3 separate regions of the Homo sapiens genome follow, and all the other regions are linked to region 1. The links come from fine-mapping of genetic effects on gene expression. A gene starts in region 1. Each other region holds a variant in brackets. All regions are shown on one strand. Distances are from middle to middle. Region 1 holds the start of HTR3B (5-hydroxytryptamine receptor 3B). Region 2 overlaps HTR3B (5-hydroxytryptamine receptor 3B). Region 3 has its middle 23 kb from the start of HTR3A.

The links. PIP is the estimated chance that this variant, and not a neighbour inherited with it, causes the effect. A credible set is the group of variants that fine-mapping cannot tell apart.
Region 2: its variant is the best candidate, but not a certain one, in a credible set for the expression of HTR3B in whole blood (TOPMed, PIP 0.73).
Region 3: its variant is the best candidate, but not a certain one, in a credible set for the expression of HTR3B in whole blood (TOPMed, PIP 0.67).

Annotation. Positions count from the first base shown.
Region 1 is chr11:113,901,124-113,906,791 of GRCh38, reverse strand. It overlaps HTR3B (5-hydroxytryptamine receptor 3B), which reads right to left and starts at 1,996. Exons shown (of 9, transcript NM_006028.5): 1 at 1,807-1,996. The coding sequence starts at 1,858.
Region 2 is chr11:113,934,611-113,939,610 of GRCh38, reverse strand. All of the region lies in intron 6 of HTR3B (5-hydroxytryptamine receptor 3B), which reads right to left. Among named protein-coding and RNA genes, the nearest start is that of HTR3B, 32 kb to the right of the region's middle. The variant C/T (reference allele first, on the strand shown) is at 2,726.
Region 3 is chr11:113,949,621-113,955,303 of GRCh38, reverse strand. No RefSeq gene overlaps it. Among named protein-coding and RNA genes, the nearest start is that of HTR3A, 23 kb to the left of the region's middle. RefSeq lists an enhancer at 2,786-3,339. The variant C/T (reference allele first, on the strand shown) is at 2,966.

The sequences.
Region 1 (5,668 bases):
ATTCCTGCAGATGAGGGACTATTGGCATAGTGAGCTTAGCACTGCCCAAGGTCATGAAGCTTGCAAGTGAAGGGAGTGATATTTACACACAGCTGGTCTGGATTCGAAGTCCAAGCTCTTAATCATGACGCTACATGATTAAGTGTAACCTGGCTCCCTGAGAATATCAGGAACAACAGCAAGTAACCTTTCAAAAAGAAGACTGACATGTTGTATGGAGTATATTATTGGACAGAAATAGCCAGTGGTATTTTCTGCATGTGTTTTCAGGTTAATAATATCTTACATTTGCATTTCACCTTACAATTTAACAATGCTGTCTTATCTGATTGTCATGAATATCCAAAATAAAGTTAGCTTACAGGAAAACTGAGTCTCTAAGAGATTAATTGACTTCCCAGGGTTACGTGGCTGGTGAGTGGTGAAGCAGGAATTAGCTGGCTCTCCTTGTTCAGGCCTCCTTCTATACCAGCACACTGCCCCCTGGGATTGGTTCCGTGCTCTTACACTTAACAAATCATCTTGATTTGTAAATATAGTAAAATACGTAAAGTAAACATAGTAAAACCCAGTACAATTCCACAGGGCAGGTCTTTCTGCAACAAGTATCCACGGAATGATTTATGGTAAAGCACTGGTTATCAGACACTATTAAAACACTTCTTTCTGCTACATTTAGAACAAAAATCATGCATAATACAAAACATTAGAGAGATATTGTTAAGAACTTAGTCTGTTTTCTTACCTTCATTTTTCTATTTTATCTTAGTTTAATGTTCACGATTATTTTCTACTAAGAAACCCATTTGGCATTTAATGACACTTCCTCTGTTTTTATTTTTTACAATTAAGATATGCTTTTATCCTTTATGTTCAACATCCAGGATTTTTATACTTTAATGATAAGTGGCTATTTTTCTTCTCTACCCAATAAAAAAATCATTTCCAGCTTCCTGGCTACCAAATTTCTAACTCATCTCTATAATTGACTCATTCCACTTCCAGTTACATCCTAAAACTTGAGAATTCAGATATGAGCTCTAGGAGAAACCTCAAGAAAGTGGGGTGTTGAGAACACCAGCATAATCATAAATTCTTGATTTGTGCGCATGTACTAAGAATCAATTGTATCCTAACTAAAATGATTCAATTCAGTAGAGTTAATACTGGTGCCATGGAAATATAGTTCTAGAAATTTAGAAAAAAAAGTATTAACTTCTAAATTACTTTTAAGAGGAATTGTAGACTCAAAACTTACCAGTTTATAGTACCTGTCTTTAGAGATATACTCATCACCTATATAGATTTTGTAAGGCGAGATGTTAAGGCCTCTAATACCAAAATGATATACATATATCTGTAGCCATGACAAATCTAGTGGACTTTTTCTCTGGGCTGCTAACAGCTGATAATGAAGCCAAGACTATTTTGGATAATAAAAACATATTATCCACACATAAAAGCAAATTTGAAAAAGAATGCCCCAAACTCTCAATCAACCTGCAGAGAGCTTGATTTCTAGAGAAGCAGAGATTTATCAAGCAATTATAACATTTCAGAGCATATTTTCAGCTATGTGTAAAAAGCCCCACAGTCTGATGCTATATGTATACGTATTTGCAATCATAGGAGCCAAGTCACAAACAAATCATTGTTTTCCATATAGCTTCACAGGACTGGCATTTTACAGACGATGAATAAAAACAAACATGCCTGAGAAGTCCTACAGTACGGTGTATACAAATATTGTCTCTATCTTCTAAGAGTTAATCCTTAATGCCTAGTAAAATTATTAAAAGGACTCACCTGCAGCCACCAGGATGCAGGCCCACAGGGGAGCCATTACACTTGACAACATTCCTGGGCAGATCCCAAAAAGGAGAAATGCAAACTTGCCTACCAGATGGAATGCCGCTCAATTTCTCCTAACAGGGTTCCTCTCCACTCTGTTCTCCTCCTTCTCCGTTTGCCAGTTGATGCTATCCTTACTGGTGCTATTTTGTAAACACTCAGTGGGACCAAAGGCAATACCAGCACCATGCAAATGTTTTGGAATTGATGCCGTCATGAAATCCCTTAACTTCTCCCTTTGGTTCTGCCCCAAGATCAGACCGTGGCCAACATTTCCATTTTCCTGACAGGAGATAGCTAAGTGAATAATGTAATCTAAGAGGAGCCCCTAAGGAGAGGAAATTCCACACTAATATGATTTCCTTTACAGCCTTTACCTAAGGCAGTACTCTTGCTGACATTCAGGACACTAATTTCATTAATAATTGAAATCCAAATAGCTGTTCTAAATCAGACTTATGCAGTAACATCTTCAGCATTTGACAGTGGTTCTTGGGCTCTTGAATTACACAAGGCTAATGGAAACCTGGTATTGTCTAATGAAGAACAACTGCAAACAATGCAATGGAAAAGTGCTTTTTGTTTTTCCTAAGCCCTTTTAATTAAAAGAAACATTGACTTTTGATAAATAGGAGGGCTTCTCAAATTTTCACTGCTCACAATTCAGAAAGTAACCTTCTAGAAAGGATGCTTCTAGGCTTATTGAAGATGAAAACAAAGTTCAACATCATTTAATAAAAGTTTTTTTTTCACTTTTTGATTGAATACGCATTCATTTTTCATTACTAAGGAACATGATGCATAATTCTATACAATAACACTATTTTCCATTTCTAGACACCCCCAGATGCTCTAGAAAGAAAAAACAAATACCATTTCCAACATCTGCCTGCTTTTTTATTAAAAATGAGATTATAGAGGCAAATTTTGATATAAATTTTCACAGAGCCAACCGAAGGGGGGAAAGTATATATTTGATTCCTATTCTCCTAATCACTCAGTCCCTTTGTTTAGAATCCATGAAGTTCTACACCTAATTTTCATCTACCAATAAAATGTAGCCTAATTGCTTTCTTACTGTTGGTGAAGGGAGTGGTATACACAGAAAGAGAGAAAACTAAGATAACCATTTGGTGTTGACTTGGTTTTGGAGGTATCAGTGTGAACCCATGGTTTTCAGTACATTTGCTAAATATATAAATAATTGCAAATAAGCTGGGCGTGGTGGCTCAAGCCTGTAATCCCAGCACTTTGGGAGGCCGAGGCCAGTGGATCACTTGAGGTTAGGAGTTTGAGACCAGCCTGACCAACATGGTGAGCCCCATCTCTACTGAAACTACAAAAATTAGTCAGGCGTGGTGGCACATGCCTGTAATCCCAGCTACTCGGGAGGCTGAGGCAGGGGAATTGTTTGAATCAGGAGGTGGAGGTTGCCATGAACCAAGATCGCGCCACTGCACTCCAGCCTGGGAGACAGAGGGAGACTCCGCCTCAAAAAAAAAAAAAAAAAAAGAAAAGAAAAGAAATAAATACAAATGTAATGTGTGTTTGCACATGTTCATACATGCATATATTCCCTAGCTCTGTCCACTTAGCAGCCTAGGAGAATGACACCCCAATAGTAACAAGCACACCTAGCTTCCATAGCTCTTCCGGTATAGTCTTGCCAAAAATTCATAACTTGAATCTATTCAGGAGGAAACACCAGATGAGACAGTGGCATACTGTGGGACAAACAAAACAGCAGGCATCTTCAAAAGTGCCAAGGTGGGCCAGGTGCAATGGCTCATACCTGTAATCCCAGTACTTTGGGAGGTTGAAGTAAGAGGACTGCTTGAGCCCAGGAATTTGAGACCAGCCTAAGCTACATAAGGATACCCTGTCTCCACACAAAAAAATAAAAGATTAGTTTAATGTGGTGGTGCACTCCTGTAGTCCCAGCTACTTGGGAGGCTGAGGCAGGAGGATCACTTGAGCTCAGGAGATAGAGTCTGCAGTGAGCTGTGATTGTGCCACTGCACTCCAGCCTGGGCAATAGAGGTAGACCCTGTCTCAAAAACAAAAACACACACACACAAAAGTGCCAAGGTTATAAAAGTTAAGGAAAGACTGAGGAACCTATCAGACTAAAGAGACACAAGCACAATATCTGATTCTGAATTGGATCCTTTTGTTATAAAGAACATTTTGGGAAGAATTGAAACTCGAATGAGGTATGTGGATTAGATGGTAGTAATGTGGCAATGTAGTAATGTTGGTTTCCTGATTTTAATTGTATAGAGATTATGCAAAAGAATGTCCTTGTTTGTAAGACCAGCACACTAAGTATTCAAGAATGAGGGAAGATCGCACACAGTGGCTCACGCCTGTAATCCCAGCACTTTAGGAGACCTAGGTGGGTAGATCACCTGAGATCAGGAGTTCAAGGCCAGCCTGGCCAACATGGTGAAACCCTGTCTCTACTAAAAATACAAAAATTAGCCCGGCACGGTGGCACATGCCTGTAATTCCAGCTACTCAGGAGGCTGAGGCATGAGAATCTTGTGAACCCAGAAGGCAGAGGTTGCACTGAGCCGAGATCACACCACTGCACTTCAGCCTGGGCGACAGAATGAGACTCTGTCTCAGAAAAGAAAAAAAAAACAAAAAACAAAAACAGGGCACATCATGTTGATCATGTCGCTAACTTATTCTCAAATGATTGTGGGGGTCTAGGGGAATTCTTTGTACTATCCATCCAATTCTGCTATACATTTGAAAATATTTCAGAAGAAAGAGTAATTTAAATGTAACTTGGTGGAGGAACTTTGGTACACAGTTATGGAAAGTTTATCTGAGAAATACTCTTTAGAGAGGGTGGGCAGATAAATGGGGCTTCATCAAGAGGGAAGATCATAGAGGACTGATCTGGCCCTCAAAGTCTCAGCTCTTCCTATCAGTTCTTTGAATTGTCAGCTTCTACTTATGGGATGAATTAGGACAAGAGAAAGGCAAGCTACAGGCAATATAGCTATGTAGGTAGCAGTTTTTATGGGAAAGCAATGCAGAAGCATCCCTTTATGCAAAGGTTTAATTGAGGCGATGATCGACATTGCATTCTTGCCATGCATTGTAGTAAGCTATGACTCTAAGTCAAACCTTCTGGGGACGTGCTTCCCTCCCTTTTCTTTGCACTTTCTGATATGCCCATCTGTTACTGGAAGGCCATTACTAATGATGTGTAATACAGGTACATTACAACTTTCATTAGCTAACTTAACAACAGTCTAGTAATCCTGCCCATTATGGCTCTTTATTGGCTGATGAATTCTGTCAAGATGGCAATGATTTTGTATGAGTGACTTGTCTTCAAAGTAGTTTATATACAATGCTTCCTGATCTTTCCTTGACAGCCTTGCTCTGTACTGTCAGCTGGCTTAGATCTTTCTTTTTCTAATCTTAGTGTCCTGTCTGGACTTTGTTTACTCAGTACTTTTAGCTTTTTTTTTTTTTTTCCCTAAGAGGCAGAGTTTCACTCTGTCGCCCAGGCTGGAATGCAGTGGTGTGATCATGGCTCACTGTAGCCTCCATCTCCCAGCCTCAAGCAATCCTCCCATCCCAGCCTCCCATAGCTGGGAGTATATGTGTGTGCCACCACACCTGGCTAATTTCTTCTCTTTTTAGTAGAGATGAGGTGTTGGTATGTTGCCCAGGCTGGTCTTGATCTCCTGAGCTCAAGTGATCCTTCCGCCTTGGCCTCCCCAGTAGCTAGGAATATAGGCATGCACCACTACACCCAGCTCATACTCAGTTCTTTTAGGTTTGGTATTGCTCCTCT
Region 2 (5,000 bases), 33 kb before region 1:
GGATGGTGTGGCCCCTCAAGGTCCCTGATTTCCAAGAAAGTACAGGTTTATCAGACCACGTGTTCCCCGAGAAATCATCTGAGGGAGAGCTGTGGCAAGAGCTAAGAGGTTAGGAGGTAGGCAGGCTTTGTGGATATGAACCTATGTAGTCACACAGAGCCTGCTCTTGAAAGGGCCCTGCACTTGGTTTAGTGCTCCACTGGTGCTATTTTGAAATTCTTAAAAATGTTTGAATAAGGGGTCCTGCATTTTCATTTTTCACTAACCCTGCATATTATTAGCTGACCCTGTCAGAAGGATAGTCCTCACTGGATGTCAACAGTAAATGAAGGCAGAGGGAAAAGACATAGGGACAAGGGTGGACAATTAGCTTCTGCTGTAACATAAAGCAAAGCCGTCTCTTGTCTTTGTTTGGCTTATAGAATCGCAAAACTAGATAGGCCTTCCAAAACCACCTCATCCATTCTCTTACCTTTAGGAAGGATGTTCGCATTTCTAAGACACACAAAATAGTACCTATAGTTTTGGGTTTTGGTTTTCTTCCAGAAGAAAGAATCCACCTTTTTCTTGTGGTTATTTAAGGGCAATGTTGCCTATGGACTAGTTTTTTTTTTTTAGACACAATTTCGCTCTTATTGCCCAGACTGGAGTACAATGACGCAATCTCGACTCACTGCAACCTCCGCCTCACAGGTTCAAGCGATTCTCCTGCCTCAGCCTCCTGCGTAGCTGGGATTACAGGCACCTGCCACCACGCCCAGCTAATTTTTGCATTTTTAGGGTTTTGCCATGTTGGCCAGGTTGGTCTCGAACTCCTGACTTCAGGTGATCCACCTGCCTCAGCCTCCCAAAGTCGTTAGCCACAGTGCCAGGCCTAGACTAATTTTCCCTGCAAACCCAGTGCAGCCTAAATAAACTCTAATTTCATCATATAGTTTTCAGAAATTTTTTGTTTTTATTATCTCATTGGATAATCAGAGCCCTTTATTCCTTTGTTCAATAAACATTAATTGAGCATGAACAGGTTGTCTGGTACTATCCTAAATACTGAAGTTAGTACTATTAATAAGACAGTTCCCTGCCCTTATCCCATCTTGTAGGATCAGGCAGCAGATTCTGGTGATTGAGTGTTTCATGAGTCAGTTGCAGGAGAGAAATTTTGCCCCAGAATGGACCATAATCAAGGTCATTACCTGCTTTAGATCATTTAAACAATGAGATTTGGGACTTTTCGAGTTTATATTTAGATGATATTTTGGACTTAAGAGTTGACACTGGAATGATGCTGGGTTAAACTTTGGGGGATGTTGGGATGCGGCTGAATGAATTTGCACATGGAGCAGAAGTGAATTTTGGGTTGCAGACTCTACTAGGTTGAAGAGGGCCCCCAAGAATTCATGTATTTCCTGGAACCTCAGAATGTGACCTTATTTGGAAATGATATCATTGAAGATGTACTAGAGTAGGATGAGGTCATACTGGAGTAGAGTGGGCCCTTAATCCAATGTGACTGGAGTTCTGATAAGAAGAGAAGAGACACACAAGGAGAAGGCCATGTGAAGATGGAGGCAGAGACGGGAGCAACGCATCTACCAGCCAAGGAACACCACAGGTTCCTGGCAGCAACCAGAGGCAGAGGAGAGGCAAGGAGCAGATTCTCCCTCAGAATGCCCAGAAGGAACCAACCCTGCCCAAGTCTTGATTTCAGATTTACAGCCTACATAACTGCAAGAAAATGAATTTCTGTTGTTTTGAGCCACCCAGTTTGGGCTACTTTGTTATGGCAGCCTTGTGACACTAATACACGCGACCTGCCAAGTAATGCCCAGTGGGCAAATGGCAAAGAATGGACCAGAATATACTGCACTGCCTTTAGTTGTGTGTCAGCATGATATGGAATTAGGCACATAGTTTCTGGAGTCAAGTTGCCTGGGTTCAAGTCCAGGCTCCACCAGTCACCTTGCAGCCTCCTGTAAGTTACTTAACTTCTCTGCACCTCAATTCATTTATTTGTAAAAATGCAGATACTTGGATCACTCATCTCCTAGGGATGTGAGGATTATAGGTACAAACTTTAAAATGGTGCTTGGCATAGGCTAAGTGCTCAGCTTTGTGGTTATTGCTATTATGTCTCCCTGGGCAGATTTTGGGGATCTGTGATAGATGTCAGGAGCCTTCATTTATTCATCTTTATGTCCTAAGTGTTCACCATGGAGCCTGGCACATGGTAAGAACTCAAAAGATGTTTATTGAATTGTACTGGAGTCTGGTAGTAGCACTACTTTTAGTTCCAATATAATGGAAGTGTGGAGTTAGCCTGAATGGAGGCTATCCTCTTGAGGTCAGTCTTTCTGAGGGCGACCTCTCTGCAGATCATGCAAGAAGCAGTGACTCCTGCTTCTGCTGAGTAGAAGGCATGTCACCTGCTCAGTGAGACACTGCTCTCTGCAAAACTGCCCCTACCTACAGCTCATCATTTCTAATGGACTAAAGGAGCTGGTGCCTTTAAATTCCACAGAAAGGGAAGAAAAAGCACTTTAGTTTCAGTCCATGTTCCCCATTAGACACCCTTCAGGTGTTAGCAATATTATGCCACAATTTCATTATCCATTAAAGCCAGGTAATAATAAGTACACAAAGGTATTTGGAGCCTATTGATGTTAATGAAAGAGATCAATCTAATTCCGAATGTGTGTGTGGAGAGCTCCTTGGAGATGGAATAGGC[C/T]CCAAGGTTAGCCTGTAATTGCCTCCTTGATGGTAGACCCCACCAGTACTCAGTTTTGCATGACCGTCTTTATGACACAGTTGGAATTTTGACGCCTAGACTCCGCTTCATACAGAAGAACCCATTTGCCTCCTCTCCAAAGCCCCTCCCAGCATTCCCAACTCAGAAAGAACAGGAAAGTTGCTGCCATTTAAGCACCGGAGTCAGAGTTACTTGGATCTAGACTATGGGTCGCTCTGGATTAGCAGAAAGTCAGTCTGTGATTCCCACATCACTTGAGTGACCCAGAAAGGATATCCAGGGCTCTAAATTCTCTCTCTCTTTCTCTCTCTCTCTCTCATATGATCTGCTAGCACTTAGAGGGATCTTGATTTTCTATCAAGTTTATAAGCTGCATTCAATAAGTATCTCAACAAAGTTACTCTACCTAATCTAGAAAAAAAATTATAACAGAAAAAGAGGATAAATGAAGCACCTTTCTTTCCCAAATGCCCGCTTTGCATTTTCTAGGACACCCTGTGCGCACCCCAATTCCTGCCCGAATAAACACTTTACTTGGTGTGAGGATATCTGTGGTTGGGCTCGGTTTAGTTTCCACAGCTGTCCACCCTTTTCCATCCAACACGAGTTCCTAAATTGTATTCCTACCTCCTCCCACTTCTACCCTCATTCTTTAAAGAAAAAAAAGAAAAAAACCACTGCCATGCAAAATCAAATGCTCTCACCCTGCTGTTTCTGGGAACCAGCACCTCCAATAATATATTGGAGGAAACCTCCCCTCCCATGGCTGCTGGGCCGGGTCCCAGGCTGTACACAGACATCTTTGTAGGGAGAAGTGCCTATGCTCTGGGCCCCCTGTGGAATGTAGCCTGACTCCAAAGTATCCGTGGTGTCCTCTGATAAACAATTTGTGTCCCAGAGTCGGCAGCTATGATTGCACATTAGCTGAAACTCATGGGGCATCCGGAGCACTTGATTTAGTATAAATGGCAGCAGTGTACCTCAGGCCAAGGGCAAGGATGAATTTAGAATAGATTATTGCTTCTCCTGACTTCCCTACCCGTCCCCAACCTCCCGCTGGGCAGCCTGGACTGAGACACAGCCGGCGAGTAGATTAAGAGGAGATGGTCCTTTGCTGTCAGGACCCTGGCAGGCCCAGTGTTGGCATAATAGAATCAGGCTCTGAATTTCACATCACTGGCCAAGGGCTGTTGAAGGAAAGCCAGGTGCCTTGGTTGCTAAATTCAGAGTGGGATGTCTGGTATGGAGTAAGAGAATGAGCCTAGGCTCTGTGCACAGAGCAGAAATGCATGGAGGCTGAGCGAGGTTGGGAGGCAGAAAACTGTGATCGTCACTGAATCCACTTTTAGTCTTTCTAAAGCTGCAGAATTGCTCCTGAGTCTGGCCTCCTGTCCCACCAAATATGATCTGTGACTCTACTCAGGATTCTCTCCCTACTCTGCTCCTGAGGACCAGGGCAGAGGCCAGCCCTGCTAGATAACCCACGTCCACCCCCGGGGCAAAAGGACCCATGGAAAAGTTCCAAGAGCATGAAATCAAATTGCACCTGCCTCCAGCACACTTCCACTTCAAAACGTACCCGGGGGGAAGCATGGCAGTGAGGAGAGCAGAGGAACTGGACCATGGCTCTGAGATCCAGGGAAGCCTCCCCTCCATTAGACAATCTTCTGTCTCTGTTCATCATAATTAAAATGGAGATGGTATATAGAAAACCTTCAGCTGCTGTTGACGAATTAACATTTAGGGTGAAGGAAAGTGACATGTAACTACAAATAATAGCTGCTCTATGGAGAGAGAGAGAGTGTGTGTGTGTGTGTGTGTGCACATGTGTGCCTGTGTATGCAAGCACACGCCCTTGTTTACCTGCCCCATCTCTTTCCTGTGTTTGTCTCCTCCGTGCAGTGTAGGTAATGGTGTGTGCAGTGTTCTCAGGAGCACTTGGTAGGTGACTATGTTCCACCTTGCATGTGCTACTCCTTCACATTTCCCTTTAATGCTCTCCATTATTCGGGCTGCATTAATAATGTTTGTGGGCTGATATCTTTAAAATTAATGAGGTGTTTACTCCTAGCCAAGAAACTCATTGAAATTTAAAAAAAAAAAAAGCTTGCTTGCTTTCCTTCCCTTTTCCTTACAAGAAAAGTGGACAAACAGGCCACAATGCAAGCTTTGCTTAAAACCAAGCAGGATTCTAGGCAAGAGCCCAAAGCCCACCATCAGGAGGGTATGAGTTGCGATTATACTAGCCAGCATT
Region 3 (5,683 bases), 49 kb before region 1:
ACAGCACTAATTCATTACAGCATGCTTTCCCACAGACCCCACTGGTGGCCCAAAAATCTATCTCCAGACAATACTCCAGGCAGCTTCTGCCAAACCATCAGGTTTGCATTCAGAGGAAATCCATGTCAGCTTTAAGTAACTGTGCTGTAATGGAACTTAAATGCATGTTTCTGACCTCCAAACCTGTATTCTTTTTACTGCACCACTTCTGTTGGATTAAAAGCTCCTTCAAGGCCAGAAACTCTGAGTGTCCTATTCAAGGTGCTATTCTGGCACCTGGCAAGGCCCCTGACACAGAGCTGATGCTCAAACTACTACTACCAAATGAGTGGGTGAGTGGATTAATGCATGAATGAATATGTCTTGCCCAGGTATTGCTTTCCTCAAATAACTTTTCCTGCATGCTTGCCACAATATCCAACATTTTCACCTCTTAAGCCAGTCCTTTGAGTTCTGCTGCCCATTTCTGCTAACCTACCCAGAAAACCAGAAGAAAAGGATACGTCCTGACTGGAATCTCAGAGGGGCTGTATTAACCTTGTCTTTTATTTTTTATATTCTGATGCTTTGACATCTGGGGCCTTGCTGACCCTGGCGAGACTGCCCCTTCCAGGGATAGCCAATTCCTAGAGATAGCAAACAACTCGCCTACAAGCAAACTTTTCAAATACAAACCAATCCAGTGCCCACATCCCCAGTAACCTTTTTTATCAGGTTCTCATACTCCAGGCCACTATCCACATGCCCTAATCATCTCAGAGCCGGATATCAGACAACTAGGGAGAGCTGCCATGCCCCAGAGTCCCCTGAAATGATTCACGCTAGCCCGTCCTAAGCCTGCTTACCCTGCCTTACCTGCTCTTTCCCGCAGAAACAATTAAGGCTCTTCCTCACAGCGCCTCCCCACCCCCTAACCCTGTAATCAACCTGGGTGTTTTCTGCTTGCATGCCCCACTTCCCACGGTGAAGTGTGGCTCATGCTCCCCTGTTGGGAACTAGGAATAATAAACTATCTTTTCCAGCAATTGTCTCCTGATCTGTTGGCCTTGCCAATACCTCAAATTTTGTATTAGTATGATATATTTTAAAGCAAGGGCAGAGCCAAAAAGGATCCCCTTCCATGAAGCCTGAAGTTTTATCTTTAATATGGAATCAACCTAAGTGTCCATCAATAGATGAATGCATAAAGAAAATGTGGTACATACACACAATGAAATATTATTCAGCTATAAAAAAGAATTAAATTGTCATTTGCAGCATGAATGGAACTGGAGGTCATTATGTTAAGTGAAATAAGCCAGGCACAGAAAGACAAGCATTGCATGTTCCCATTTATATGTGGGAGCTAAAAACAAAACAAAACAAAACAAAACAGTTGAACTCATGGAGATAGCAGAACGATGGTTACCAGAGGCTGGGAAAGGTAGTGGGGAGGGAGGGGGGGTAAAGAGGAAATAGTTAATGGGTACAAAATCCAGTTAGATAGAAGGAATGAGATCTAGTGACCAGTAGCACAATAGGACAACTATAGTCAACAATAATTTATTGTACATTTCAAAATAACCAAAGAGTGAGGCCGGGCGCAGTGGCTCATGCCTGTAATCCCAACGGTTTGGGAGGCTGAGGTGGGTGGATCACTGGATGTCAGGAGCTCGGGACCAGCTTGGCCAACGTGGCGAAACCCTGTCTCTACTAAAAAATACAAAAATTAGCTAGACCTGCTGGTGTGTACCCGTAATCCCAGCTACTCAGGAGGCTGAGGCAGGATAATCGCTGGAACCCAGGAGGCGGAGGTTGCAGTGAGCTGAGATCGTGCCACTGCACTCCAGCCTGGGTGACAGAGCGAGACTCTGTCTCAAAGCAAACAAATAAATAAAACCCAAAATAACTGGACAGTGGAGTTGGAATGTTCCTAACACAAAAAAATGATAAATTCTTGAGATGATGGATATTTCAGTTACCCTGATTTGAGCATTACACATTGTATACTTGTATCAAAATATCACATGTACCCTATAAATATGTACCCCTAATAATTAAAAATAAAATATTTTTAAAAATAAAGTTGTATCTTTAAGGTTTTATTCTAAATTTTTGTTTCTTCACCAAAATATATCAGTATGTATTTTCATAGGAAAGTAAATAATTCTCGTAACAATATACTGTTGAGTAAAACCAATGCTTTAGAAGGGAAATCATGTTCATTCTGGGGTTTTGAGTATAGCTAGCACACTGCTGAGCCATGCTAGGGATAATATACCCCAGGTTGAAAATGTGGCATGAACTCATTTCACCAGTTTGTATTTCAGAACAGATTAATTTTAAATGACTGTATTTAAAAGGCATTGGCACAGTGGAAGGATTTTTGGTCTCATTTGTGCACAGTGTCCGGGAAGGTAGATTTGGGAAGAACACAACAGTGAGATGTCCTTTGGGCAGTGTGCCGACATAGGTCCCTGGGTAGATACGCGTGGGAAAGAGGAAGGAATGAGAAGAAACTTCAGCTATTGCACAACTTGGCCAAAGCCAGCCCCGCGTGCAAAAGGGCAGGTGGTGGGAAGAGACCGCAGGAGAATGGGGCTGGGGTAGAGAAGGAGGCTTGTGGAAGGAAGAGCTGCAAGCCGAGACTGGGCAGGGATATGGGGAGAAAAAGAACTGCCAACAGCACCCGATTCCCTTGCTCTCAGCCTGGCGCTCTTCAAAGAGGATGAGCAGGGTGACCAGGAGCTGGCTGTCCACATGCAGCCCGGGTTACCAGTGACACTGAGGAGGGATGACCTTCCCGCTAGACTTACACACACCCCAGGCCTTCAAAGGCCAACACAGGCTGTGGGAGAGGTACAGAGGGTAAGGTAAAGGGGGAGCAAGGGGCTCCCTCTCACTCAGATCTGTAGTCTTGCCTGACACAGAGGCCGCCCACAGCCCAGCAGTTCCTTCCACCCCTGCAGAAAACCTTGATGCAATT[C/T]CTGCTTTATAGCCTCTGCCAAATGAAGCACAAACTTAATTACATCACCTCCCCGACAGGACGGGGAGCAGCGTGCTGGGCTTCTTCAGCCCCCTAATCTAATCACTGGCGTGGGTCATTTCAATTACGGACACCAGAGTGTGGGGGGAGCGTGGCTGCTCATAAAAGCCTCCATGCTGTTGCTCAGCTAATTATGAAGCTCTTACTGTCTCCGCAGGTAAATAAGTCAGGACTGAGCAGTTCCGGCTGCTGAGATGGAGTCTGATCGAGGGAACAGGACAAGGTAGGCTAAGCTCGACAGGGTGATGGCTGAGGTGGAGCCCAGGGTCACAGAGGGGGTTGCAAGGAAGGAAGCCCGGCCTTCCCGAAGGGCTCTCTGCCCTGAGGAGACAATCCACCATGCAAGAATTGATTGGTGGATTTTACCTTAAAACCCAAGCTCTGAAGTTTCCTAGAAGCCTCAGAGCCACAGGGCAGGATAAAATTCAGACTCCACCCACTTCTACTAACCTTGCCTTAACATGTGTCATTAGATCTCTGAGAAGGGAGAGCATCTGGGGAAGCCTTGAGGCTGAGCTGAGAGGAGGATGCATTCTAGCAACGGCACTTTCACTCTGGCTCCCCTCATGGCCACTCTCATTTGCTTCCCGGTTCTGGCTCATCCAGGCTGGGACGTCAGACCCCAGGAGACGTGCTGTGTCACAGTGGTTTAAAAGGTGAAAAACTCAGCTTCCTTTATCATGGCAGCTACTGCTCCTCTAGGACAACTGCAAAAGGTGTGGCGGGTATCTTGGGAGGAAAAGGAGACCCTCTGCCACCTGATTATTGGCAATACTCAAGGCTGCAGAGGCTCGGGGAGGTCATCAGAGCAGCACTCAGAAGTCGTCTTGTAATATAATTGAGGCCAGGCGTGGTGGCTCACACCTGTAATCCCAGCACTTTGGGAGGCTGAGGTGGGAGGATCACCTGAGGTCAGAAGTTCGAGACCAGCCTGGCCAACATGGTGAAACCCTGTCTCTACTAAAAATACAAAAATTAGCCAAGTGTGGTGGCGCATGCCTGTAGTCCCAACTACTCAGGAGGCTGAGACACAAGAATCGCTTGAACCCAGGAGGTGGAGACTGCAGTGAGCCAAGATCGCACCACCGCACTCCAGCCTGGGCGACAGAGTGAGACTCTGTCTCAAAAAAAAGAAAAAAAAAAAAGAAATATAATTAAGAGAGCCAAGTACAAAGGGGGAAGATCCCTGGAGAACCCCTGACCAGCCCGCATGCTGGAAGAGCAGGGTAGAGCCATGGAAAGTTCGTGCCCTCTGCGGGGAGGAGAAGCCTGGCCTCTCTCTCCTGTTCTGGGATGTGGTAACTAGGAATTCAATTTGTGAGGTGGGAAAACTGGCTAGCAGACTCTCGCTTTGCTGAGAGTCCCTATTTCCATTTTTTTTTTTTTTTTTTTTTTTTTTTTGCCCAGTAAATTCCATTTTCAAAGTGTCTGCAAGCCTAATTTTTCATGGCTGTATGACAAGGACTCTGTTTTTAGCTGTACTAAGGAGAAAGTTCTACAACATGATGAACTGGGGCTGCCTGGCTGGCCTGGGAGTTAACTAAGTCTTTGTTCTAGACATCAGTGAAGTCCCCAGAACTGGAGCTGTGATTTCTTGGTGAGTGCTGAAACCACCTTGGATTCTGCGAAAGAGCAGATGGTAGGAGTGCTCACAGCTGGGAGAATCCCATTTTTGCTCTGTTCCTCAGTTTCCTTTCTCTATGAAACAGGAATCATGAAATGTATGAACATTTGGAGGGGCTGAGCTAAAGCTGCTCTGCAAATAAGGGCTGCTGGCACCCCATATTCCTCCCACCACAGAGGGACACTATTCCAGGAGGAGATCTGTAGTGCCATTTGTTCATGATGTTGTCGAAGAAAAGAGTCAAACTCTGTAAAATATTGGAAGAGATTTATTCTGAGCCAAATATGTGTGACCACGGCCAGTGACACAGCCCCCAGGAGACCCTGAGAACATGTGCCCAAGGTGGTCAGGGCACAGCTTGGTTTTGTACGTTTTAGGGAGACATGAGACATCAATCAAATACATTTAAGATACATATTGATTCCGTCCAGAAAGGGGGGACAACTTAAAGCCAGTGGGGCAAGGGGTTTCAGATCCTAAGTAGATTTAAAATTTTTGTGATTGGCTATTGTTTAAAAGAGTTATTGTCAATAGAAAGGAATGTCTGGATTATGGTAAGTGGTTGTGGAGACCAAAGTTTTATCATGCAGATGAAGCTTCCAGGCAGCAGGCTTCAGAGAGAGTAGATTGTAAATGTTTCTTTTCTTTTTTTTTTTTTTTGAGACAGAGTCTCACTCTGTTGCCCAGGCTGGAGTGCAGTGGTGCGATCTCAGGTCACCGCAACCTCTACCTCCCAGGTTCAAGCAATTCTTCTGCCTCAGCCTTCCAAGTAGCTGGGATTACAGGCATGTGCCGCCATGCCCAGCTAATTTTTGTATTTTTAGTAGAGATGGGGTTTCATTATGTTGGCCAGGCTGGTCTTGAATTCCTGACCTCAAGTGATCCACCCGCCTCGGCCTCCCAAAGTGCTGGGATTACAGACATGAGCCACTGCGCCCAGCCAGATTGTAAATGTTTCTTATCAGACTTAAGATCTGTATTGATGTTAATGCTGGTGCTGGTCAACTTTTCCTGAATTCCGAAAGAGAGGAGGG